7 linked regions of the Homo sapiens genome follow. The protein of the gene in region 1 purifies or fractionates together with the protein of each later gene. This does not show direct contact. Each region holds a gene or a part of one and is shown in the gene's direction. Other genes may lie near its edges. The genes, in order: LGI1, STK39, RGPD5, TOR3A, ELF2, CHST12 and CAMK4.

What was found.
Region 2: the proteins of LGI1 (region 1) and STK39 purify together in Homo sapiens (affinity purification with mass spectrometry; one large-scale study listed by BioGRID and IntAct). This does not show direct contact.
Region 3: the proteins of LGI1 (region 1) and RGPD5 purify together in Homo sapiens (affinity purification with mass spectrometry, with the first as the bait; one large-scale study listed by BioGRID). This does not show direct contact.
Region 4: the proteins of LGI1 (region 1) and TOR3A purify together in Homo sapiens (affinity purification with mass spectrometry; one large-scale study listed by BioGRID and IntAct). This does not show direct contact.
Region 5: the proteins of LGI1 (region 1) and ELF2 purify together in Homo sapiens (affinity purification with mass spectrometry; one large-scale study listed by BioGRID and IntAct). This does not show direct contact.
Region 6: the proteins of LGI1 (region 1) and CHST12 purify together in Homo sapiens (affinity purification with mass spectrometry; one large-scale study listed by BioGRID and IntAct). This does not show direct contact.
Region 7: the proteins of LGI1 (region 1) and CAMK4 purify together in Homo sapiens (affinity purification with mass spectrometry; one large-scale study listed by BioGRID and IntAct). This does not show direct contact.

What each region holds. Positions count from the first base shown.
Region 1 is NC_000010.11:93,764,436-93,767,935, forward strand, and holds part of LGI1 (leucine-rich glioma-inactivated protein 1 isoform 1 precursor), read left to right. Parts: intron 1-984; exon of another isoform or gene 985-1,079; intron 1,080-1,907; exon of another isoform or gene 1,908-3,500. UniProt on the Homo sapiens protein: Regulates voltage-gated potassium channels assembled from KCNA1, KCNA4 and KCNAB1. It slows down channel inactivation by precluding channel closure mediated by the KCNAB1 subunit.
Region 2 is NC_000002.12:168,164,096-168,167,595, reverse strand, and holds part of STK39 (STE20/SPS1-related proline-alanine-rich protein kinase), read left to right. Parts: intron 1-188; coding exon 189-297; intron 298-3,500. UniProt on the Homo sapiens protein: Effector serine/threonine-protein kinase component of the WNK-SPAK/OSR1 kinase cascade, which is involved in various processes, such as ion transport, response to hypertonic stress and blood pressure.
Region 3 is NC_000002.12:109,853,305-109,855,754, forward strand, and holds part of RGPD5 (RANBP2-like and GRIP domain-containing protein 5/6), read left to right. Parts: exon of another isoform or gene 1-2,385; intron 2,386-2,450.
Region 4 is NC_000001.11:179,088,570-179,092,069, forward strand, and holds part of TOR3A (torsin-3A precursor), read left to right. Parts: intron 1-3,500.
Region 5 is NC_000004.12:139,128,719-139,132,218, reverse strand, and holds part of ELF2 (ETS-related transcription factor Elf-2), read left to right. Parts: intron 1-3,500. UniProt on the Homo sapiens protein: Isoform 1 transcriptionally activates the LYN and BLK promoters and acts synergistically with RUNX1 to transactivate the BLK promoter. Isoform 2 may function in repression of RUNX1-mediated transactivation.
Region 6 is NC_000007.14:2,431,111-2,434,610, forward strand, and holds part of CHST12 (carbohydrate sulfotransferase 12), read left to right. Parts: intron 1-1,452; coding exon of another isoform or gene 1,453-1,529; coding exon 1,530-2,774; 3' UTR 2,775-3,500. UniProt on the Homo sapiens protein: Catalyzes the transfer of sulfate to position 4 of the N-acetylgalactosamine (GalNAc) residue of chondroitin and desulfated dermatan sulfate.
Region 7 is NC_000005.10:111,230,884-111,234,383, forward strand, and holds part of CAMK4 (calcium/calmodulin-dependent protein kinase type IV), read left to right. Parts: intron 1-3,500. UniProt on the Homo sapiens protein: Calcium/calmodulin-dependent protein kinase that operates in the calcium-triggered CaMKK-CaMK4 signaling cascade and regulates, mainly by phosphorylation, the activity of several transcription activators, such as CREB1, MEF2D, JUN and RORA, which play pivotal roles in immune response, inflammation, and memory consolidation.

The sequences.
Region 1 (3,500 bases):
TTCAGTTGATTAGTGATGATGGTGATGCTTGCTGGTTGTTGATCCTGTGGCTAATACGGGCTACAGAATGTCTGCAAGGGCTTTACAGCATCAGCTGTAATATCAAAACAGCTGACCCTGGTGAGCTGGCAATGAGGCAGACAACACAGACTTGTGGGCAGATAAGCATGGGTTCAAATCCCCACTCTGCTTCTTCCTAGTTGTATGATTTGGGGCAAGCTTAATCAAGTCTTGATATCTATATCTACAAAATGAGGAAGAACCGTAGTACCTATTGCACAGAATTACAGTAAGGATTAAGTAAAACAATGCATGAAAAATGCTTTGCAAGGTTCCTGTAACTCAATACACATTAGCTTTATTACAGTATCTGAAAATCACTTTAATTGGAACTACCATAACATCAGATTAGTGTCTGATTGTATAATCTGGGTTTGCCGATAATCTCAGCTTTAAACATTTTGTGGTTCTACACACAGTTCCCCAGCAGAACTTGCTGAGAAATCTTTTCTTTAAATACTTCTTACAGGAAACATGAACTATTTACCTTTCAAAAAAAAGTCATAACCCTCTCCTTTCTTCCTCATGAATAAAATGACTGGCACCACGTTTTGTAAAACATGCCAGATTTTGTTTAAATAATTAATATTGGCAGTCTTCAGATGAGTGGTTCTATGGTAGCATAGAAAGAGGCCTAAACTAGAAATCAGGAAACATGGGTTTGAAACTCAGTTTGGCCACTATTGGGCTGCGTGATCCAATAGTTTGGGTAGGTCACAAAACTACCTAATAGTTTGGGTAGGTCACAAAATATCACTGGACCTCAGCTTTTATTGCATAAAATATTAGAGGTAGATTAAACTGTGGTTCTGAAACTCAAATGCTAGTGGGGTTTGGGGCGGTAAGACCAATGAAGGAAGCAGTTGAGTATAAGACAATAAGGAGTAGTGGTGACTGAGGTAAACCAGAGAAGACATGTCTTACCTAAAAATCCTCTGCTCCAACTGACTATTGCTGATGGGATTGTGGTACATGCACATGGAGCCCTATCTTCCTCATTTTTAGGGGAAGGTGGAATTCTGGAAGTAGATTTTTAAACAGGATAAAGACCAAACAAATATAAGTTGGCATTTTGAGACCCTTGCATTCAATTACATCTAAGGTCTCCTCCTATCTTAAAATTCTGTTGTATTCTACAAACAGTTACGTTAATATAATATAGAAATGGCATGGTTAAAGAAATGGACAACGATGGCTTGGCGCGGTGGCTCACGCCTGTAATCCCAGCACTTTGGGAGGCCGAGGAGGGTAGATCACGAGGTCAGGAGATGGAGAACATCCTGGCTAATACGGTGAAACCCCGTCTCTACTAAAAATACACAAAATTAGCCATGCGTGGTGGCGGGCGCCTGTAGTCCCAGCTACTCGGGAGGCTGAGGCAGGAGAATGGCGTGAACCCAGGAGGCGGAGCTTGCAGTGAGCCGAGATCGCGCCACTGCACTCCAGCCTGGGCGACAGAGTAAGCCTCCGTCTCAAAAAAAAAAAAAAAAAAAAGAAATGGACAAAGATTATTGAATCAGTTCTAACAAACCAATACATTAGGTTGTTCATTGAAAGAAACTCATAATATGAAACTGGCTGTTATAAGGTTATTAATACAATAATTGTAGTTCCCAATCTCCCAAACAGGTCCAAAGGGACCTTACCAGGCTCTCCCTGTGGTGGTTGATGATAAAATGATGTTTCAGTATCCCTCTCATGGAGCAAGGATTGGAAAAAAATTGTTAGGCCCATTTTTATATAGCAAGATGGCAGGTGCTTGCATGTGTAAAATGTGATCAAAAGGCAATAAATCTTTAAAAATACAAACTAGAATGTATACATACAAATAACTCTTGACTTCACAGAGGGCCATAGATTTTGCCCAACTGTGCTTCCATGGCTAAAGATTTCTGGACCCTCCTTTGAGAATTGTCTTCATTGCCAGTTTACAAGCCACGCAATAAAACCAGGCAAGGTTTTATTAGAGACATTAGTTATTTTTGTATTGCTTGGTGCTAAGCATTTTATAGATCTCTTTTTTTTTTGAGACGGAGTCTCGCTCTGTCCCCCAGGCTGGAGTGCAGTGGCGCGATCTCGGCTCACTGCAAGCTCCGCCTCCCGGGTTCACGCCATTCTCCTGCCTCAGCCTCCCGAGTAGCTGGGACTACAGGCGCCCGCCACCACGCCCGGCTAATTTTTTTGTATTTTTTTAGTAGAGACGGGGTTTCACCGTGTTAGCCAGGATGGTCTCGATTTACTGACCTCGTGATCCTCCCGCCTCGGCCTCCCGAAGTGCTGGGATTACAGGCGTGAGCCACCACGCCCGGCCTATAGATCTCATTTTTAATGTCATCATCATGGTAACCTTTTGAGGTAGATATAATTATCTCCATTTTGCAAATGAAGCGCTGAGTCCTAAAAGATAACCTCCTCAATGTCACGCCCCTATTAAGTAGCAGAGTTGGAGTTTAAACCCATGTCCTCACTTTTAACCACTTCTGTCTACTTCCTCCTGAACATGAATCATCATGCTTCACTTTGCATAGTTTTGTTCCCAAAATCAAATCCCCTCTCAAAGGGTCAACCTTTGCCATTAACAAGAGTTTTCAGGAGAATGTGCCCTAATTCCTGGAGACAATGACTGAAAGGAGTTTCAAAAGCCCTTTGAAAGAGTGGCCGCATTGCTGGCAAGAGCAGCTAGTTTCCCTAGGTTGCAACTCTCATTTATATGTGTAAGCTCTGATCTCCTTGCTTAAACAAAAATAGAGAGAAAGAAAAGAAAAAAGCAAAAGAAAAAGGCCTTATTTACTTTAAAGTTACACCTTAGACTACTGTTGTCTAAACTTGTGTCCTGTGGAGCAGTTGACCTGAAAGAAGAGTTCTGTGCTCAAATAAATTTGGGAAACTGCACGTTCTATCCCTGCTTGGTTATTTACAATGAAGTTACCTTGGCATAGAAACATCTCTGAAATTATTCAAAATTGTTTCACTTTTCTTAACATCCCATAGAATATTGGTTCTATGGAACATACAGTACTTTGGAAATATATGCATGTGATAATTCATCTTATTTTTAGCTTAACTATTTGTACCCCACCTCATTCTAGAGAGGTTGGATAGCAAAGGATACGCAGGTGGAAAGAATCTCATCCTAGTGGATACATTAAACGGTCTGTCTCCATATAAGGAGCAACTCAAGACCATTTTGTTAGTGTGGATTCGTTGATGTGACCTCTGGGAGTCAGGCTCCTCAGTAGGCTCTCTACCTGGTCAAGCAATTTAGCACACACCCCTTCTTTAGGGACCTCCCAGTAGATCTCCATCTTTGGGAGGAAGGAGATGACTTCTTGCAGCTCATTCAACAGGAAAAGGCTTCTGAGTGTGTAAATATACACTGTCACTGTTTTTATTTGGAGCAGATTTCATCACAGCTATTTTCTAAATGGCTAAACAAGCAT
Region 2 (3,500 bases), on another chromosome or scaffold:
TAATCTGAGTTGATAATGTGGGTGAGAGAATTGGTCCTTATATACCTTCTTTGAAGTAATGGCTTAGGCAGCCCCTCAGGTAGGCTTTCGAGTAGGAAAGTTACCCAGGTACTCAACTGTGATTCACTTGTGTTTTGCTTGCCAATTTTCACCCCATGGTACTATGTCATGTTTTGCTCTTTTTATAGAAAGAAATTCAAGCCATGAGTCAGTGCAGCCATCCCAACGTAGTGACCTATTACACCTCTTTTGTGGTCAAAGATGAACTTTGGCTGGTCATGAAATTACTAAGTGGAGGTAAGTGGATTTTGTTGTTGTTATTTATTTGCTTGTTTTCTCTCCTTTTGTTGGAACCAGCATATTGGAGAAGACTTTAGATTGAATCCTTTCTCTCCTGTGTTTGAAAGTTTGTTTGGTTTCTCATTGCCTAGAGGATAACGTCCAGATTGCTTCACATTGACCTTCAAAGCTTTTCATAATTTTGCTTAACTTCCGAGAATGTGTATGTCCTCTTCTCCAGGTATGAAATGCCCGACCTTCTAGGCTGAGAGGCAGCCCCCGGAATGTATTATGTGCTCTCATGCCTTTGCCCCTGACCTGTCCTCTTTCTCAGCCTTGCATCTCTCCTTTGTTTTCCATGTGCTCAGGCCTAAAAGGTCACATCCTCTCCACAGTCACCGCTTACTCTTCAAAAAAGTTAGCCAGTCCTTTCTCCTTGAGTCCTTTCTTTTTAACATTGTTCAGGTCCTTAACACATTGCAGTTTGCTGAATTATCTCAGTGCCATTTATCAGAATGTTCTGTGATGATGGAAATGTTCTGAGGTGCTGCTATCTACTTTTTACTAATCCCATGTGACTCTTAAGCACTTGACATGTGGCTAGTGTGACTGAGGGACTGAGTATTCAATTTTAATTAACTTACATTTAAATCACCTTGTATGGCTCCAGTATTGGACAGTGCATATTTAGGTTGTGGACTTTGTGAAGATTGTCTAATGCACTTTGAATTCATTGAACTTGGCGCCCAGTAGGTGCTCACTAAATGTGGTTTCAGTTGACATGGGGAGAAATGTGTGCTACATATTCACTTGCAGTGTTGATCAGAAATGGCACTATTGTCATCCTATTGTTGCATTTGGGAAGGGAAAGTCACTTCCTCTCTCTAGCTTCAGATCCCTGCAGTGATGCAAGCCATTGACAATTTAATTTACAAGGTGCTTTCACATCCTGTATTTTATTTCTTTTAATCTTCTAACATCACTATCAGAGAGGGAATGATAATGATAACCGTTGCCTTTTTTGAACACTTACTCTGTGGCTAGATCCTGTCCAAGGCAATTTACTGACCTTATCCCATTTAATCTTCACAGTGTCCCTGAATGGCCTGTGTCACCATCCCTGTTTTTCAGAAATTACACCAAATTTCAAGGGAGTTTAGCAACTTGCCCAAGGTCACACACATAGTAAATGTTGGTGCTGGAATTTGTGACTTTAACATCTGTTGACTTAAAAATTTGTATGCTGTGCTGCAAGTATTTACACCTTCGTTTTGCAGACATGGGCACTGAAGCTTAGAAAGCCCAAGTGATTTCCTTGGGAACACCCAGCATACCCACATCTCTGGTGTGTTCTCTTTCGAGGGCTTGATTCTCTGGGTATCTTTCTGAGACATGAAGTATGGTTTAGGATCAGAGGAGAACATTTTGCTGTGCCTGGACAACCCAAAACTAGCATAGCAGAATTTATATGATAGAGCCTATTTTAATCTGCAGATGTCGAGGGAGGTGTTTTAATGTTTTCCTTTTTTAAAAAGGAAACTCTCTTGGATCAAGCAGAAGCCCAAAAATGAGATGACGAAGGCATTGTAATTGGCTTGGGTCTGCTTGTGTAGGTCTCGGTGGGGAGCCCTGGGGAGCTTAGTTCTGTTCTGTTTTCAGTCTTCCTCAGTCTTATTAGTCATTGTTTCCTTGAGTGCCTACTTCAGTTTTTAATTAAAAAGAAAAAAAGAAAAAGGAAAAGAAAAAGGAAGCCTGCCAGAGCTGGACTGCAGTATTGAGTGCTGGGACTGCCCCTTTATTCAGCAGAGGAACTTGCGCTTTGCCAACAAGATGATCTTAAGGCATTCTCTTTTTGTGGGGTTCCACCAACTCTGAGGAAATGAGAAATTCTGATGACTTGAGACCCTGAATAGTCCCAAATGCTCTGCTCAAGCTGAAGATTTTACCTTTTGCTTTATGAAGCTGAGAATCTTCTGTTTTCTGAGGAGGATCTGACAGAAAATTTCTTTGTCTTTTTGAGTCCAATTTAGCCTCTCTGGGCTTTAGGTAAGAACAGATTTTAAACAGGTTTCCACAGGTAAGGACGTGGGCAGACGTGGACTCTTGTTCATTTTTCTTTTAGCAGGACAGAAATGCATGCATGCCTGGTATGGTATATCCTTATACAATAAAAAGAAAATGTTTTTGGAATTATCATTTTTTAAATGACACAAAAATCTAAGAGTCAACAAATAAACAGAGGTTTTTTTTTCCTCTGGGGAAAAATATGCATTTGTTTTCTTCTATTTCATTACATTGAATCTCTTAATGAGGGGCAGGCAGCTGTATCTGATGGGGAAGCTCAATCCTCTTAGTTAATTATAAAGAGCCTAGAGCCAAATTCAGGTCCTGAGGTAAGCCGTTTGTTAACTCTTCAGAAATGTCAAACCCCCAGGTAATTTTGGCTTTTAAACTGACCCAGGGGTTTGGAATACTAATTAATATGTGTTGAAACATGAATTCACAGTGCCAAGGATACTAATCTGTATATGGTAACAAAGTACTAGGTATCTGTTTGTTTATTGTAAGTGTTAGTGCCTCAAATATATCAGGTAAATGAAATAAAGATCAGCCAGGCTCAGTGGCTTATGCCTATAAGCCCAGCACTTTGGGAGGCCAAAGGTGGGCAGATCACTTAAGCCCAGAAGTTCAAGACCGGCATGGGCAACGTGGTAAGACCCCATCTCTACAAAAAATACAAAAATTAGCCAGGCGTGGTGGCACGTACTTGTAGTCCCAGCTACTTGGGAGGCTGAGGTGGGAGGATCGCTTGAGCCTGGGAAGTTGAGGCTGCAGTGAGCTGTGATTGCTCCACTGCACTCCAGCTTATATGACAGAGGCAGACTCTGTCTCAAATAAAAAAAGAAAAAGAAGGAAAGAAAATAAAGATCAGGTAGTGTCACAGGAAGGAATCTTCCGGTTATAAGCAGAGGTCTAGAAACAACATACTTCTTTCCCCCTCCCACCTGTGATTTAGGTCCTCAAAGAGTGTGTTTTTTTTCTCTCAGCAGTTCACTTCTGCCTTTTCTCCTGGCCTCATACTCCTTTCTTTGTCAGTTCAGACTTTTTGCACCCTCTTTGGAGGGTTGCTCTTAGGAATTTTTGTGAGAAATACTGTAACCAGAAAAGGAACCAGCCATGGAACGGCCATGAACAGCCTTCTGGTCCCTGACCCAGAATCC
Region 3 (2,450 bases), on another chromosome or scaffold:
AAACAGCCTTCCAAGGCAAGAGCAAATGCACCCTATCTAAGCACAGCTTTTCTCCAATTCTTATTTACCTAAGGAGATGAATAGCTGCCAGGAACATTGTTTGCACAAGGGCAGGAGCCTGCCAGATCTGAGAACACAGCAAAATTTTTATTTTGTCAAAAATCTTATATTCAGCTTACACCATTCATTTCAGGTGAACATACAACAGTCTGCATTTCAGTTTAGGGAAATGTTTACAGTCGTCTGGTTCTCTTTATTCTTGGGAACAAGGTTACCTCACTTGGAACACATAACCAGTGCCAAGTTGTCCATCCCTAAGCAATATCGCTTCCTCCTACTTTCTAGAAGTTCTTCAGGTTGTGGAAGACAGACTTTTCAGAATTGTTTGCCCTCATTCCCTCCTCCAGAAATGCATGCCTTTGTATAATCTCTTCCCCTTGAGAGCCAGTAGGCTAACCTAATGAGTTATGTTTAACCAGTAGAATACAGCAAGAATGATAGATTACAAGAGATTGTGGCTTCTATCTTGCTAGCGGCCTCTCTCTGTCTTCTCTGCTTGCACACTTTGTTGAAGCAAGCTACCATCCCAGAGGCAAGGAACACAGGCCATCAGTTTAGCAGCCTTGAGGAACTAAATTCTTCCAACTACCACATAAGTTTGGAAGTAGATTCTTCTCCAGTCCAGCCTTCAGATGAGACCCCAGCCATGCCAACATCTTGATTGCAGCCCTGTGAGAGACCTTGAAATAGAACCATTTCTGATCTCCTGACCCACAGAAACTGTGAAATAAATATGTGTTAAGGTACTAAGTTTGTAGTAATTTGTTACGCAGCAGATTGTAAATAACACGCAGATAAAACCAGACAGAACAGAAAAATAAAATGACTTTAACTCTAGAAAGTTTCCCCATGTAAAATTTTGAAAATGCTACTCTGCCTAAGGTCAAACTGTCATACATATATACGTATGAAAACACAGAAAGGTGTCTGGAAGGGTAATACCAAATTAAATCTTTATCCAAGAGGAATGAAAACCAGTATTCACACAAAAACCTATGCACAAACCTTGTGAATATATTAAAAACCAGTGAATTATGCACTTTAAAAAGGTGAATTATGTGGTATATGAATTATATCTCCAAAACATTTAATTAAAAACCTGTACACAATTATTCGTAGAAACTTTCTTTAAAATTGCTAAAAACGAGGAAGATCTCAGTTATCCTTCAACTGGCAAATGAATAAACAAACTGGTACAGCCGTGCAATTGAATACTGCTCAGCAATAAAAAAGAATGCACTGCCAGTTCAGCAACATGGGTAATTCTCAAATGCATTATGCCAGTTGACAGAGGTCAGACTCAAAATACTATGTACAGTGTGATTCTACTTATATGACACTGAAAAAAGCAGAACTATAAGGACAGAAAACAGGTTAGCGGTTGCCAAGGAGTGGGAGAAGCAGCCAGGGAGAACTTTGAGGAGATGAAAATGTGCCAGGCCTTGGTCGGTGGTGGTACGTAACTGTGCATTTGTCAAGACTCAGTGCTATATGCTGAAAAGGGCAGGTTTTACTATAAGTAAGTTGTACCTCAATAAACATGATTTTTAAATGATTAAAACTTTGGTTTTTGTTTGTTGTGGTTCAGTTTTAAGGTTTCCCATAAATCTATTGGTTTTAGATTCTAAGTTGTATATAAGCTTCTGTTTTAAAAGAATTTTTTTTTAAATCCCCTTATCGTCAACAATATTTAGTTGTGCTGGAAATTTTATTTTGGAATTGTTTAATAGAGAAAGACAATAAATAATGTTCAAGAACAGACATTGATTCATAACATCAAAGTATATTGTGAGAAGATGGTATTTCAGAATAGAGGAAGAATTTCTTATGTGCTGGTAAGATTGTAGATAATCATTTCTGCATAATTTTCATAGCTGGATTGCTTTAATAAAGCCATTTAAAGGTTAAGTTCTAGATTGCTTCATGTTGCTTATCAATGTTTTAAAGCTAAAATAGAAAATTAGCTGTTAAGTTGGCTCAACCGGAAATTCAGTATATCCTTTAAAAAGAGAAATTTAGTAAGCAGTGTGTCTAAAGAATGACATATGGTTGGGTACAGTGGCTCGTGACTGCAATCCCAACACTGTGAGGCTGAAGTGGGAGGATCACTTGAGCCCAGGAATTTGAGACCAGCCTGGAAAACAGTGAGACCTGCATCTCTACAAAAAAACAAAAAATTACCCAGGCATGGTGGTACACACCTTGTGGTCCCAGTTGCTTGGGAGGCTGAGGTGGGAGAATCACTTGAGCCTGGGAGATCAAGGCTGCATTGAAGTCTCATCACGCCACTGCACTCGAGCCTGGGTGACAGAGCAAGACCCTATCTCAAAAAAAAAAAAAAAAAAAGAACCCCCCCCCCCCACCAAAAAAGGCATGTGATCAGTAAAAAA
Region 4 (3,500 bases), on another chromosome or scaffold:
TTCCTTCAGCCTTGGAAGTCTGTTTCTTCTCCGATTATGAGAAGTCATCACTGGCTTAAAATCCAGGGTATACGGGTTGAGAAACCCATGCTTCCTCTGAGTACCTGTAGTTCAGTTGTGACGCTACCATGCGGGACCCAGTCACTGAATCACTGCACTGAGGTTCCTGTGCTTTCACTGACATCTTTGCGTGAAGCCAACTTAGAAATAACTTGTCCAACCTCATCTTTTTGCGGAGGCTCCAACTGGGGGAGTCCTGTGTCTGTTACAAGTCAAGTTTGGGCCCTTGTTGACCCAATTTGAAGGCTTCACAACAGCTCGAGCCTCGGTAGGAGTCAAACTGAGTGCTCCCTTCCCAACTCCACTCCGGCCTCGCCTTCCCCAGGCCAGCACTTGCTTGCTGGGGGGGTTTCCCAAGCTGCAGGGCTCACTTTGTGAGGATGGGGAAGTTGGTGAGGGGATGCTGATTTTCATCCTAGCTTGGGGAGTGTGGAGGGGTGAAGGGTTGAGCTGTGGAGGGCAGATCTAGTTTCGGTGTGGATTCACAAGAGGAAGTGAAACAGGGTCCAGGCGCAGTGGCCTGTCTACTAAAAATACAAAAATTAGCTGGGTGTGGTGGCAGGTGCCTGTAATCCCAGCTACTCGGGAGGCTGAGGCAGGAGAATCACTTGAACCTGGGAGGCAGAGGTTGCAGTGAGCTGAGATCACACCATTGCACTCCCGCCTGGGCAACAAGAGAGAGACTCCATCTCAAAAAAAAAAAAAAAAGTGAAACAGGTTTAAGCCGTTGCTGGGTTGGGATTTCTGTGTAGTGGCGGGAAGCCCTTCCTGGTCTGCAGGTGAAGCTGTGGAGACTTAAAATGCATTGCGAAGTGGGAGGGGAGTGGGGCGCCCAGGGTGATTTTTAAGAGGAGAGAGAGATCTCTTGCATGATTTGGGTGCCCAGAACCAGGAGGTGAGGACAATACATTCTTCCAGTTAGTTCTTATTCCCACGTTCTGTACTATTTCCCACCTTCGGAGGCAGCCGGGCTCACCTCTCCTCCTGTTACAGAGAGTCAGGTGGGGGCTGCAACATGCAGATGAGCCTGAACAGAGGAGTCACCTGGGTGCTCTGTGGTTTCTCCACCTGAGCCCTGGGTCGGGCAGTCCAGGGGACCCTCTGAACCACCGATGCGGAAGCCAGTCCTTCCCACGGCACGGAGCAAAGCATGGTGACCCAGCCTCGGGCCTCCCTTTCGCTTCCACAGGGATCTCCCTTGCGCTGAGTGTCTTCCTCCTCCCTCTCCCCGAGACAGGGGTCTCCCGGCTTCAGGTGGTGCCGGCCACACAGACTCTCCCACCCACTTCTCAGCTTGGAAAACCTCACCTGGGCCGTGATTGCCTAACGTGACCCGGTGACCCTGCAGTCTCCAGGCAAATGTTATAGCCTTTGTAGTATTTTGGCCGTCGACCTGACAGCACCACCCTCCAGCTGCCTGTCCTTTCCCCCAGTGACCCAGCCTGGGTGGACTGTCCGAGGCCATGTGGTTGTGGGCGGGGTGGGGGGGGGGGCCTGCGGGAAAGCCGCCTGCCAGACTCCTCCATGCCACAGCAGGGTGGGGAGGTCCCCCAGGAGCCTTTGACAAGGATGTAAAGGACACATTAAAAAGATGTGGCCTTAGGTTCTAGTGGCTCTGGTGTGGGCCTGTGCCCAGCCTTTACGAGCCAGAGGTTCCCCCCTCCAGCCGAGGGCTGGGCTGACATAGTCTGTGCCCAGGCTGTCCAGGGCAGCAGCCTCTCAACCTCAAGTTCTCAGGTAGTCCAGCGATGGCTGGGAGGAGACACACTGTTGATATTGGAGTCTCTGGACTTGATTTCTATAATGAGCTTCAGTTAATCATCCACTGTAATAAGGATTCTAGGGCATGAAAGAAAAGCACAGCTGATTCAAACTGCTAGAGTGACCAAGTCATACTGCACGAAGGAAGAGCAGCAGTTTAATTCTGAAATAAATCCTAAACCTGCTGTTTGAAGTGAGTTGCCAGTGGCTTTGCTGGCTTCCTCCTGGTGGCAGGAGAGAGGAGGTGGGAGCTGAAGCAGGGAGTTGAGTGTGGTGCTCAGAGCCTGTCCTTCATCCGGGCCAGGGAATTGGGGCCGGTGACTGGGCACCAGGAAAGTAACATTACTTCGCCCACTTCTGCCAAGTATAGAAGGCTGCAGGAATGGGCTCACGTGGCAGGACAGGAACGTGGAACTCTGCGATCGGAGCTGCTGCCCTGTTCTCATGGGAGCTGTAAAGTGACAAGGGTAATTAAAGCCTGTTTCCTTTGTGCTGTTGTCAGGAAAAGGATAGAAAGGACTTTGAAAAATTACAGAACTACACAAATAGAAATTATTTGTGGAGTCGTGGTGGGCCTTGCGCTCCAGCCCCCAGTGTCTGTTGGCTGCCTGTTGACTAATGAGAGGACAGCTTAGATTGGTCCAGTCCTGACTTTATAAATGAGAACACTAAGGCTCAAAGAGATGACTGAGTCTATGTCTGTTCTTTAGGAAAGATGTAGCAGTTAGCATGGGGTTTGTTACCAGTAACAACCAGTTCTCTGGTGAGGCCTGAAGTCCCCTTCCTTTGGGGTCTTAGGGATAAGGGCTGGTGAGATCAGCCCTGGCAGGGGCTGGAGACGGGGGATGAGGGCTGGTTGAGAGAGGTGCCCTCTGGCCCCTCCAGACTTCCCAGCGATCCAGGTCAGCAGATGAGCTGGGAGGCTGTGGAAGGGAATTGAGGTGCTCCAGAAAGACAGTGTCTGTCTAAAGGTAGAACGCTGGTGCCAGAGTGGTGGTCCTGAAGATGGGAGGGGCGGCGCGTAGAGAGGGGCCCCAGGTTATGGGTCAGTGGGTGAGATTAAAGCCTCTAAAGTGGTGGAAGAAAAGGGACTTTGGCTATGGGACAAAACAGGAGAGATTGAGAAGGGTGGAGATGGTGCAGACACATGTGCAGAGATGTCCCTTTATTTACTAAAGGCTGAGTGCCTGATACGCACATAGCACTGGGGTTACAGAAATAAACAGGCCAAGCTTCCTGCCCTATGTGATGGGACCTCTCTTTACCCATGTAAGCACCTTACAGAATGGAGAAGGCCCTGGAGTCCATGCCCCTAGGATGGGGTGAGGGAGTATCACTCTGTGGGGTTTCACAGCACCCTGGATCCTGCCTTCCAGCCCCTGCCAAGGTAAACAGTGCTGCCTGCCTCCTGTGGGGAATGCAGGATGGGGCAATGCCCTGGCAGCAGGGTCTTGCCTCAGCTGATGCAACTGTGGCTGCTCCTGTGTGCACAGATCATGTGCCTGGAAGGCCTTCCTGCAGCAGGGGCAGTGTCAGAAAGTGGAAGAGTGGTGTGAGCAGCTTCCCCGGGGAAAGCCTGGCTGAGCAACTGACCTTGAGCAAGCACTGCAGATGGCCCTTGTTCCTGCCGGGCTCCTCCAGCTGGGAGCTCTCAGCCCCTGGTAAATTCTGGCAGTGAA
Region 5 (3,500 bases), on another chromosome or scaffold:
TATTTATTTTATTTTTTTGGTTTTTGTACCAATTGTTATTTTTAAATGAAAAAAGTATTTTGATATTTCTTAATTACCAGGATCATTGTAAAAAACAATAAACTCAGACATACTGAGAAAATGAAAATCCATCTTTTGTCTGCTCACCTCTCTTTCACCAGGTTAATAATTTGAGGTGTATTTTTTCCAGACTTTTAAATGTATATGCTAAATAAATATATAAATGGAATCAGACAACAGTACTATTCTATGGCTCATTTTCCTCCTCCTTCCACCCCCTCTTGTTTGTATCATGGATATTTTTCCATGCCAGTATATAGCTCTAACTGCCTTAATTGCTTAATTGATATTGAATAGTCTCTCATTGTATGGATGTTTGTTAGTATGGGTGTATGTTTTCTATCTCTTTTTTTTTTTTTTGGCATTATGAACATCTAGCTTAGGGGACTTGTCTTAAAACTGGGTTTGCATAGCAAGTGCACCATTATTTATTCTAGTGACGTATTTATTTGGAGTGGTTTCTGGGGTTAAACCATGAGAGGTAGGGGAGATGAGTCCTCCCTAAAGCCTGCCAAACGGCATTTTTCAGTTTTGATAAGATTTTTTAAGGTAACCTTACTCTACCTCGAAAGAGAAAATGTGGAACAAATTTATGTACTTTTCACATACTCCTGAATTTTATTATCTTTCTATATATTCCTAAAGTACATTGAGAAAAGGATTACAATACCACTGCTTTCAGCCATTTCATTGTACTTGTCTTTGGAAACTTCTGATACCTGGAGAGCAATGACTGAGTGCATATAAAAGCACTTTCTAGGTAAACACTGCAGCATTGCACTTGTCTTGCCTCTTTAAACTAAGAATCTCTCTCCTTAAATGGAAGTTTTTGAGATCACTGTTAATACTTACAGTAGGGTTGCCAGATAAAATACAGGATGTCTAGTTAAATTTGAATTTCAGATAAACAACAAATGACTTTTTACTTTAAGTATGTCCCAAATATTGCATGGGACATTCTTACAGTTATTATTCAGTGTTTCTCTGAAATTCAAATTTAACTGGGTATCCTGTATTTTTTTATTTGCACCCTAGCTTGTAGGGAATTAGACAGCTTGTGCCAAGACCCATGGTGACTTGAGCAAAGTAATGCTAAGTAAAATAACCTTGTACATGTGTTATTTTTTGCTATTTTATTTTTAAGCAAAGACTCCTGGTTTCTTCTCTTCCATCCCCTTTCTCCCATAAAAATAGCTACTCTTCTACACAGTACAAGGCAATAATTATCTGAATAGCTGCATGCAGTGTCCTCTGGTCTGTATCATATGGCAGAAAAAAGGCTCATGAAGTTACTTGCCTCCATAGATGAGCAAATGTTGAACTTATAAATACCTGTTAATATTAAAATTTGTTGACTTTATTATTCTTTGAGCCAAGCTACAAATATCTGTACTTAAATGCCACTTTAGTTTATATGAAGCATGTGTTATTAAGGAGGATATAAAAATTGACTACGATATAACTCTTGCTCTCAAATATCCTACTAACCAGTCAAGGAGTTGTATATGTAAACACATAATTATAATATGGGACAATGAACAGTGGTAATATTAGGCAAACAACTTGTTCTATAAATACGTAGGATAGAAAAATTAATTCAGATTGGAGGATTATAGAAGATTCCCTGGAACTTGATGAAAAGCCTTCAGTAGATGAAAAGGATTTGGACAGATGTGAAGGCTACAAAATAACATGAGCAAAAGTCTTGGAAATGTTCACATTTAGGAATTAGAAGCAATGCCACTAATCAATTTATGTTAAGTAATGTAGGGAAATAAGATATAAAGGTGGTATATTAGTTTCTTGGGGTTGCTGTAACAAAGTACTGTAAACTAGGTTGCTTAAACAACAGAAATTTATTGTGTTACAGTTCTGGAGGTCAGAATTTAGGAATCAAGGTGTTGATAGATTTTTTTTTTATTGTTGTTTGTTTTTTTTTGAGGGCTAGGAGGGAGAATCTCTTTAATGCCTCTCTCCTAGCTTCTGGTAGCCTCAGGCACTCCTTGGCTTGTAGATGGTGTTCTCCCTGTGTCTTTCCATGGTTTTCCTTCCCATTTGTGTGTCTCAGAGTCCAAATTTCCCTTTTGTAAGGACATAGTCAGATTGGGTGAGGGCTCATCTTAATTATCTTGTCTTAACTTGATCATCTGCAAAGACCTTATTTCCAGATAAGGTCACATTCACAGAAGCTAGGGGTTAAAACTTCATCTTTTTGGGGGACACAATTCAGCCCATGACAGGTGGGTTGGGGTTATATTTCAGAGTGTTAAAGCCATTGTTTAATTTGTTAAACTTTCCTTTTAGACCAAAGGGGAGTCATTAATGCTTTTTATGCAAGGAAGTAACACAAACAGTTCTGATTGTGATGTGAAAAGGTGCCCTCTAAAGTTGAGGGCAAATAGTAGATTTGAAGACTATTTCTATTGTTAAAATATAATATCAGCTGTCACTAATTGAATAACTTACTCTGTGCTTTGTACTTATACTATGCTAAGAACTTTGTGCATATAAAGTCATGGGACTTTAAAGGACAGAAATATTAAAATCTCTTTTTTAAATATGAAGAAACCAAGATTTAAAGAACACAGAATGGGGAAACAGGGACAGATGTAGATAATTTGTGCCATTTAGACATGTTAAGCTTGAAGTGTTGACTGAGTATTCCTGTAGTGATGTTAAAGTTGGTAGTTTAAAATTTGGTTTTGGAATTCAGAAGATGAGTCAGAGTAGAGGACAAATACTTAGTCATTATCAGCATAGAGGTGCTATTTGAAACCATAAGAATGGGTGGGCTTACTTGAGAAGGTAGTATAGGGCAAAAAGAAAGGAGACACTGAGGATAGAACCTCACTAAGTTGGCTAGACTTGAGTCTATGGAGATGAAAGAAGAGTCAGAGGAGACGCTTGAAAGTAGAGTGGTAGGCCGGGGGTAGTCGCTCATGCCTGTCATCCCAGCACTTTGGGAGGCTGAGGCGGGCGGATCACCTGAGGTCAGGAGTTTGAGACTAGCCTGACCACCATGAAGAAACCCTGTCTCTACTAAAAATACAAAATTAGCTGGACATGGTGGCACATGCCTGTAATCCCAGCTACTCAGGGGGCTGAGGCAGGAGAATCACTTGAACCTGGGAGGCAGAGGTTGCGGTGTGTCAAGATTGCGCCATTGCACTCCAGCCTGGGCAACGAGCGAAACTCCATTTCAAAAAAGAAAGTAGAGTGGTAGAGAAAGTTGGAAGAATGAATTTTTTAAATGAGGGTAATAATAAATGTATGAGTCTGCGGGGAGGCAGTAGAGATTGAAAACTGAAATAGAATTTGGTCGTTATTAACATTTTGAGGCTGGGTATGGTGGCCCATGCTTGTAATGCCAGCACTTTGGGAGGCTGAGGCAAGTGGATTGCTCGAGTCCAGGAGTTCAAGACCAGCCTGGGCAACATGGT
Region 6 (3,500 bases), on another chromosome or scaffold:
TGGATTTGTCTGTTTATCCTTTAGCTCTATCGATTTTTGCTTTTTGTATTTTGAGGCTCTGTTGTTTGGTGCATACATGTTTAGGATTGTTATGTCTTCCTGGGGATTGAACTGTTTGTCATTATGTAATGTCCTTTTGTCTCTAGTAGTTTCCTTCCTTCTGAAATTTGCTTCATCTGATATTAAGATAGCCACTCCTGCTTTCTTTTCATTAATATTTGCATGATTAATGTTTTCCATTCCCGGGAGAGAGGAGGTGAGAAAGTAGAGGGCCAACTTGCCCCACCTCTAACCACCTCACGCCATGTCATGGGTGCCAGATAGGGGTGGAGTAGAGTTGGAGTTCAGCTCCTACTGGGCCCTGACCTGGCTGGGGGAGAGGGAGTCAGAGTGTGGACTCTCCTGCCTCACACCATCTCCTTCCACCTTGTGGATGCCAGGTGGGGTCAAGGCTTAGCTCCCTGCTGGACCACACTGACAGTACCCTGGTGGGACAGACAGAGGAAGCACCTCTACTTCCATGGGCAGAGGAAGGGGTATCAGCTCCCAGCTCAGCCCCACCAACACCCCCTGGTGCCTGGCAGGGGAATAGCAATGTGCCACTTACTTTTGGGAAGCCAGGGTGGTGTGGAAGGTCAGCTCTCAGGGTGGCCCTGATGAAGCTGTAGGGTGCAGTTTTTCCATTGGCATTCGACTTAAGTAGAGTGGGTGTTGCCAAAACAATTTTCCTGTTGTTGGGTCACTGTGAAGTTAAGGAATGGTTCCCAAGACCCCTCTTACTTATGACACCAATAGCAAATGCAGGCGTCCCTGAGACCACTGTGGGGTTTGATGATTTGCTAGAAAGATTACAGAGCTCACTGATCACAGTTATTCTTGTGGCTATGGTTTATTATAGGAAAAGGATATAGATTCGAAGATTAAAATCAGCCTTGGCAGGAGAATGGCGTGAACCTGGGAGGTGCAGCTTGCAGTGAGCCAAGATCGGGCCACTGCACTCCAGCCTGGGCGACAGAGCGAGACTCCATATCAAAAAAAAAAAAAAAAAAAAAAAAAAAAAAAAAAAATCAGCCTTGGGAAGAGTTGCAGAGGGCAGAGTCCAGGAGGGCTCACACCTGGAGCTGGTCTCCACTCCCTGGGAGGCGTCCTCTTCTTGGGAGTTGTGGGCAATATTACTTTCCCGCCAGTGGCGAGTGTCAGCACATGTGGAGTACTGCCAGCCAGGGAAGCACGCGAGCCTTGGCGTCCAGGGTCATTACTGGTGCTCGGGCACATGGATGTGTAGACTCCCTGCACTGCTGACCTCAGCCTCCAGCCCCTCTGGAGGGCGAGCTGATATCACGTGGCCCAGCGCTCCTGCTCCTCCGGACCCCAGTCCCCCACTGATCAGAAGGCAGGAGTCAGAGCCCCAGTGCACCTCAGTCATTAACTAGTGTGTCATTGCATCTGCAGGTTCCCAGCAGGATGCCCCGGCTCTGCAGGAAGCTGAAGTGAGAGGCCCGGAGAGGGCCCAGCCCGCCCGGGGCAGGATGACCAAGGCCCGGCTGTTCCGGCTGTGGCTGGTGCTGGGGTCGGTGTTCATGATCCTGCTGATCATCGTGTACTGGGACAGCGCAGGCGCCGCGCACTTCTACTTGCACACGTCCTTCTCTAGGCCGCACACGGGGCCGCCGCTGCCCACGCCCGGGCCGGACAGGGACAGGGAGCTCACGGCCGACTCCGATGTCGACGAGTTTCTGGACAAGTTTCTCAGTGCTGGCGTGAAGCAGAGCGACCTTCCCAGAAAGGAGACGGAGCAGCCGCCTGCGCCGGGGAGCATGGAGGAGAGCGTGAGAGGCTACGACTGGTCCCCGCGCGACGCCCGGCGCAGCCCAGACCAGGGCCGGCAGCAGGCGGAGCGGAGGAGCGTGCTGCGGGGCTTCTGCGCCAACTCCAGCCTGGCCTTCCCCACCAAGGAGCGCGCATTCGACGACATCCCCAACTCGGAGCTGAGCCACCTGATCGTGGACGACCGGCACGGGGCCATCTACTGCTACGTGCCCAAGGTGGCCTGCACCAACTGGAAGCGCGTGATGATCGTGCTGAGCGGAAGCCTGCTGCACCGCGGTGCGCCCTACCGCGACCCGCTGCGCATCCCGCGCGAGCACGTGCACAACGCCAGCGCGCACCTGACCTTCAACAAGTTCTGGCGCCGCTACGGGAAGCTCTCCCGCCACCTCATGAAGGTCAAGCTCAAGAAGTACACCAAGTTCCTCTTCGTGCGCGACCCCTTCGTGCGCCTGATCTCCGCCTTCCGCAGCAAGTTCGAGCTGGAGAACGAGGAGTTCTACCGCAAGTTCGCCGTGCCCATGCTGCGGCTGTACGCCAACCACACCAGCCTGCCCGCCTCGGCGCGCGAGGCCTTCCGCGCTGGCCTCAAGGTGTCCTTCGCCAACTTCATCCAGTACCTGCTGGACCCGCACACGGAGAAGCTGGCGCCCTTCAACGAGCACTGGCGGCAGGTGTACCGCCTCTGCCACCCGTGCCAGATCGACTACGACTTCGTGGGGAAGCTGGAGACTCTGGACGAGGACGCCGCGCAGCTGCTGCAGCTACTCCAGGTGGACCGGCAGCTCCGCTTCCCCCCGAGCTACCGGAACAGGACCGCCAGCAGCTGGGAGGAGGACTGGTTCGCCAAGATCCCCCTGGCCTGGAGGCAGCAGCTGTATAAACTCTACGAGGCCGACTTTGTTCTCTTCGGCTACCCCAAGCCCGAAAACCTCCTCCGAGACTGAAAGCTTTCGCGTTGCTTTTTCTCGCGTGCCTGGAACCTGACGCACGCGCACTCCAGTTTTTTTATGACCTACGATTTTGCAATCTGGGCTTCTTGTTCACTCCACTGCCTCTATCCATTGAGTACTGTATCGATATTGTTTTTTAAGATTAATATATTTCAGGTATTTAATACGAAATGTGGAAGGGAATGCTGGAGTAAAATATCCCCTCTCCCCTCCGCCCGCCCACCCGCCCGCCCGCTCGCCCGCTCGCCCGCTCCTGTGGTTTTTCTGAGCGTGCGGGCGCCGGGAGGGGATGCTGAGGCTGATGGAGCTGCCTCCAGGGCTAGGGCCACTCACCGGAGGAGGGCGGGGCCTGCACTTGAAGTCAGGCCGCACCTGTCTGTTTTTGGAAGGGTAGCCGACAAATCCTTCCAGAGGGAAAGTTCTTTGTTTAAGTGTTGTACTTGAAAAGGTCAATCTTCAGGGCTTCCTGTTTGAAGTCAAGTCAGAGGTAAACCGGTCAGTTACAGAAGCAGGATTTCTAGGATTTCTAACTCCAGCTGTTCCCATACTGTCTAGTTTAAATTATGGCTGTTAAGGCCGGGCGGGTGACTCAGGCAGGTAATCCCAGAACTTTGGGAGGCCCAGACAGAAGGATCGCTTGAGGTCAGGAATTTGAGACCTGGCCAACATGGTGAAACCCTGTCTCTACTAAAAAAAAAAAAAAAAAAAAAAAAAAAAAAA
Region 7 (3,500 bases), on another chromosome or scaffold:
TATTGATTTTGTAAAATTTCAAGGTCAAATTCATACTGCAAAATATGGTGTTTGAGGCAAGGAACCATGTAATTCAGGACAAAGAGGAACTTTTCATGAAGTTGATAGCAGCTAGAGTCAAGGTTTTACTCAAATTATATTGATCTTTACCTCAGTTTTCTTGATCTATTTGTAGTACAGGATTATCTGAAGATTTCATGACTCCAATGGTTTAATTAGGAAGTTAGGTCTAAATATCGAAGGCATAGTATTAGCACATAAAGGATGTGGACCCTTCAATACAGTTTGTCAGAGATTTTCCTCAGTCATTATCTTGTCAGTGGTAAAGATCAAATAAAGAAAAGAACAGTGTCTGGAGAGACAGTGATTCATAGTGATGGGTAAAGGGTAATGCAAGTAGACCTTCCTCTTTTCTCTTAGACTAGGGTTTCTCAATCTAGGCACTATAGACTTCTGGCCCAGGAAATTCCTTGTTGTGGGGGCTGTCCTGTGCACTGTAGGATGTTTAACAGTGTCCCTGGCCTCTACCTACTAGCTGCCAGTAGTGACACCCTTATAAGTTGTTAAACCAAAACTGTCTCTAAACATTGTCAAATGTGTCCCCTCTCTCCTCTTGAGAATCATGTCTTGAAGCTAGTGTTTTACACATTTTCTTTCAGTTATGTAGATAGTGAACAACAACAAGGAGATTGATAGATTATGTTAATTTGGCTTTACTGAGTATCTGCTACAACCAAATGTTTCTCCCATTTCTATGTATTACCATAAGATTTCTGTTTTATGTGTATTCCACTTCTGCTATTTGCTTAATATTTTTATTTAAATTACCTTATTTTGTTAACCTAAATTTATTTACCAAGAATACAATTTTCACTAAATTGAAAACTGTGAATAAAAGCAAATTGTATATGCCATAAATAGAAACAAATTGTAAAAATAAATTGTAATGGAAACATAACATTTTTAGTAAATTATAGCTAGACTTGTCCACATGCAGAAGGCTGTAACTCTGAGGACTGATTTCTTCCTTAAAAAAGAGATGATCAAAGATTAGCAGAGTTAAAACCAGAGTAGCACAAATTGAAGTTTTCTTCTTGATGTAATCAGAATCATTGAAAAGTAATTGAAAAGAAAAGGATGTTCTCGCTCTCTCTTTTATTCCTTGTTATTTAATTCCATGCGTTTGTGCTACCTAAAGTCCTCTTGTTTATAAGTCTAAGCTTTTCAATAATTCTGACCTAGACGATGTATGCTGGCAGTGTGCATGTGGTGGGGTAAGGGCCTAGAGTGTAAATGAGCATGATAAATCAATATTTGGCCTCCAAGTGCATAGGGTACTACTAATAAGGCACCAACAATATATTTAATAAAAGATAAATTAATGAATAAGTAAAATGAATAAAACTTATTAGAAATCTAAGAACAATAGCCATCTTCATGACAGAGTTGTGACAGAGAGGACTGGGGTGTCTTTATGGGGGAGGGGTAGACTCTGAAATTTGGCAGGATTTTAATAGGTAGAGCACTGGCAAACAGCATGTCAGGCAGATGGTACATTCTAAGAAGAGGCAAAAAAAGGACAGAAAAATTCAGGATATACATTTTTGTTTTGCAAAATTTATAAAGCATGAACATTGCAATGGCAGATTGGGTCAGCAGGGTAAGTTGATGTCAGACCAAAGACAACCTGTTTAAAAAAAACAAAAAGAGTAGGCTTGTGTCACTTGAAAACCACTTTGTAGATAAAGTAACCATTGTGAGAGAAAAACGTCAGCTATAGAAGCAGCTGGGTCTTGGGCTGAGGTTGTGGGACTCAGAATTTGCCACTACCTATAATGTAGATCAAACATGGGGCTAGATAAGAGAAAACTGATGATGTAAATTTTTTTTTTTTTTTAAGGAAAAAACAATCCCATAGCCTATGACTAGGTAAGAAAGGAGAAATGTTGGACTTAGATTGGTTACCTAGACCAGGTAAAGAGTGAGTAAAAAGAGACAGTAAGTATTTTAGGCTTGAAGGCCATTCAGTCTCTGATGCAGCTCTACCCTCTGCCATGGTTGAGAGAAAGCAGGCATAGACAACATACAGACAATAGCACATTACTGTGTTCCAGTGACATGTCATTTATGACAGTAAAATTTGACTTTCATATAATTTTCACATCACAAAATAGTATTCTTCTTTTGATTTTTAAAAATGCAAAAATTGTTTTTAGATTGCAGACTCTAGAAAATCAAACGGCTCCTAGGTCTGGTCTGTGGTTTGCTAACCTAGACCAGTCAAGCTAAACTTCTGCTCCTCCCCAGTTGCATGAGAATTTCAGGTTAAAATGATATCAAATCTTAACTTATTCAAGGAACTACCTTTAGTCTCTCTTTCACTTTGAAAATGTCAACTTTTTATTAGTTTTCCACGTGGGCACAAGCTTTAAATGCATACTCATCTTTTATCAAAATCTACTGAAACTGCTACAGTTACAGTTCTTACCAATGTAACATGTTGGCTAGTTCCATTTCTCTCTTTCTTCCTCCTATTTCTTTTTGTCTGATACTGATTATATGACTGATGTTTACTTCACATAATGTTTGTGAAAATGAAGAGCCTTTATTCGAAGGGCGTGAAAGTTAAATTTCCATACCGTGAACAATGTTCATATCAAAAGACTATTTATTGGCGGGTAATTTGTTTTGTACATAATAACTAAATAGGTTTCAAATTGATAATTCCTCTATTATATTTAGAGTGACAATAATATGCTAAATAAATTACTGATGAAAGATTTTCCTCTAACTAGTAAAGTTGAATTAATTTTTCCATTTGCTAGTATTAGCTGTGTGTTGAATAATCCTTCTATATGCTATGCAGATGTCTCAGGTGGATAATTAAGGTCATTTAAATGAGGAACCTGTTTAAGCAATCTTTTGAAAACTTAAAATTACTCCTTTTTTATATATTGAATAGAGTTAAATTAAATCAGCCACTCATATTTCGACTATAGCAGAGGTCTATAAGGTGGGATGCCCGTAGCCAGGGTATGTGTAATACAATGAGGTGCTAGAAGAAAGTATTAGAGAATCTGTTTTGGTTTCTTTTTTTAATTTTTGTCTTTAATTTTTATTTTTGGATGTTTTAAAAAGCACATTAATGTTGGTTAAGTAACACATATATACCATTAATAGGTACGTTAGTGTACACAGTTTGGAAGCATGTGCTCAAAAAACATTTTATTGGATGGTGACTGGGTCAAAGAATGGTAGTCATAAGTGGATACTGAATAAACTTCTTTATATTTAAATAACATTCTACTTTATGAAAAGTGAGTTTAAAGCAAATATACAGATAAATATGCAAACAAAAAATCATATTGCAAGGTGTGTCTTTGTGCAGAAAGGGGAAGTGGGTACATACGTGCAACTGTTATGCATCTCAAGACTACTTGATGAACGGTTTTGATAAGAACTTACTGCCATTGTAACCAAAACAGTCACATAGAAGAAAA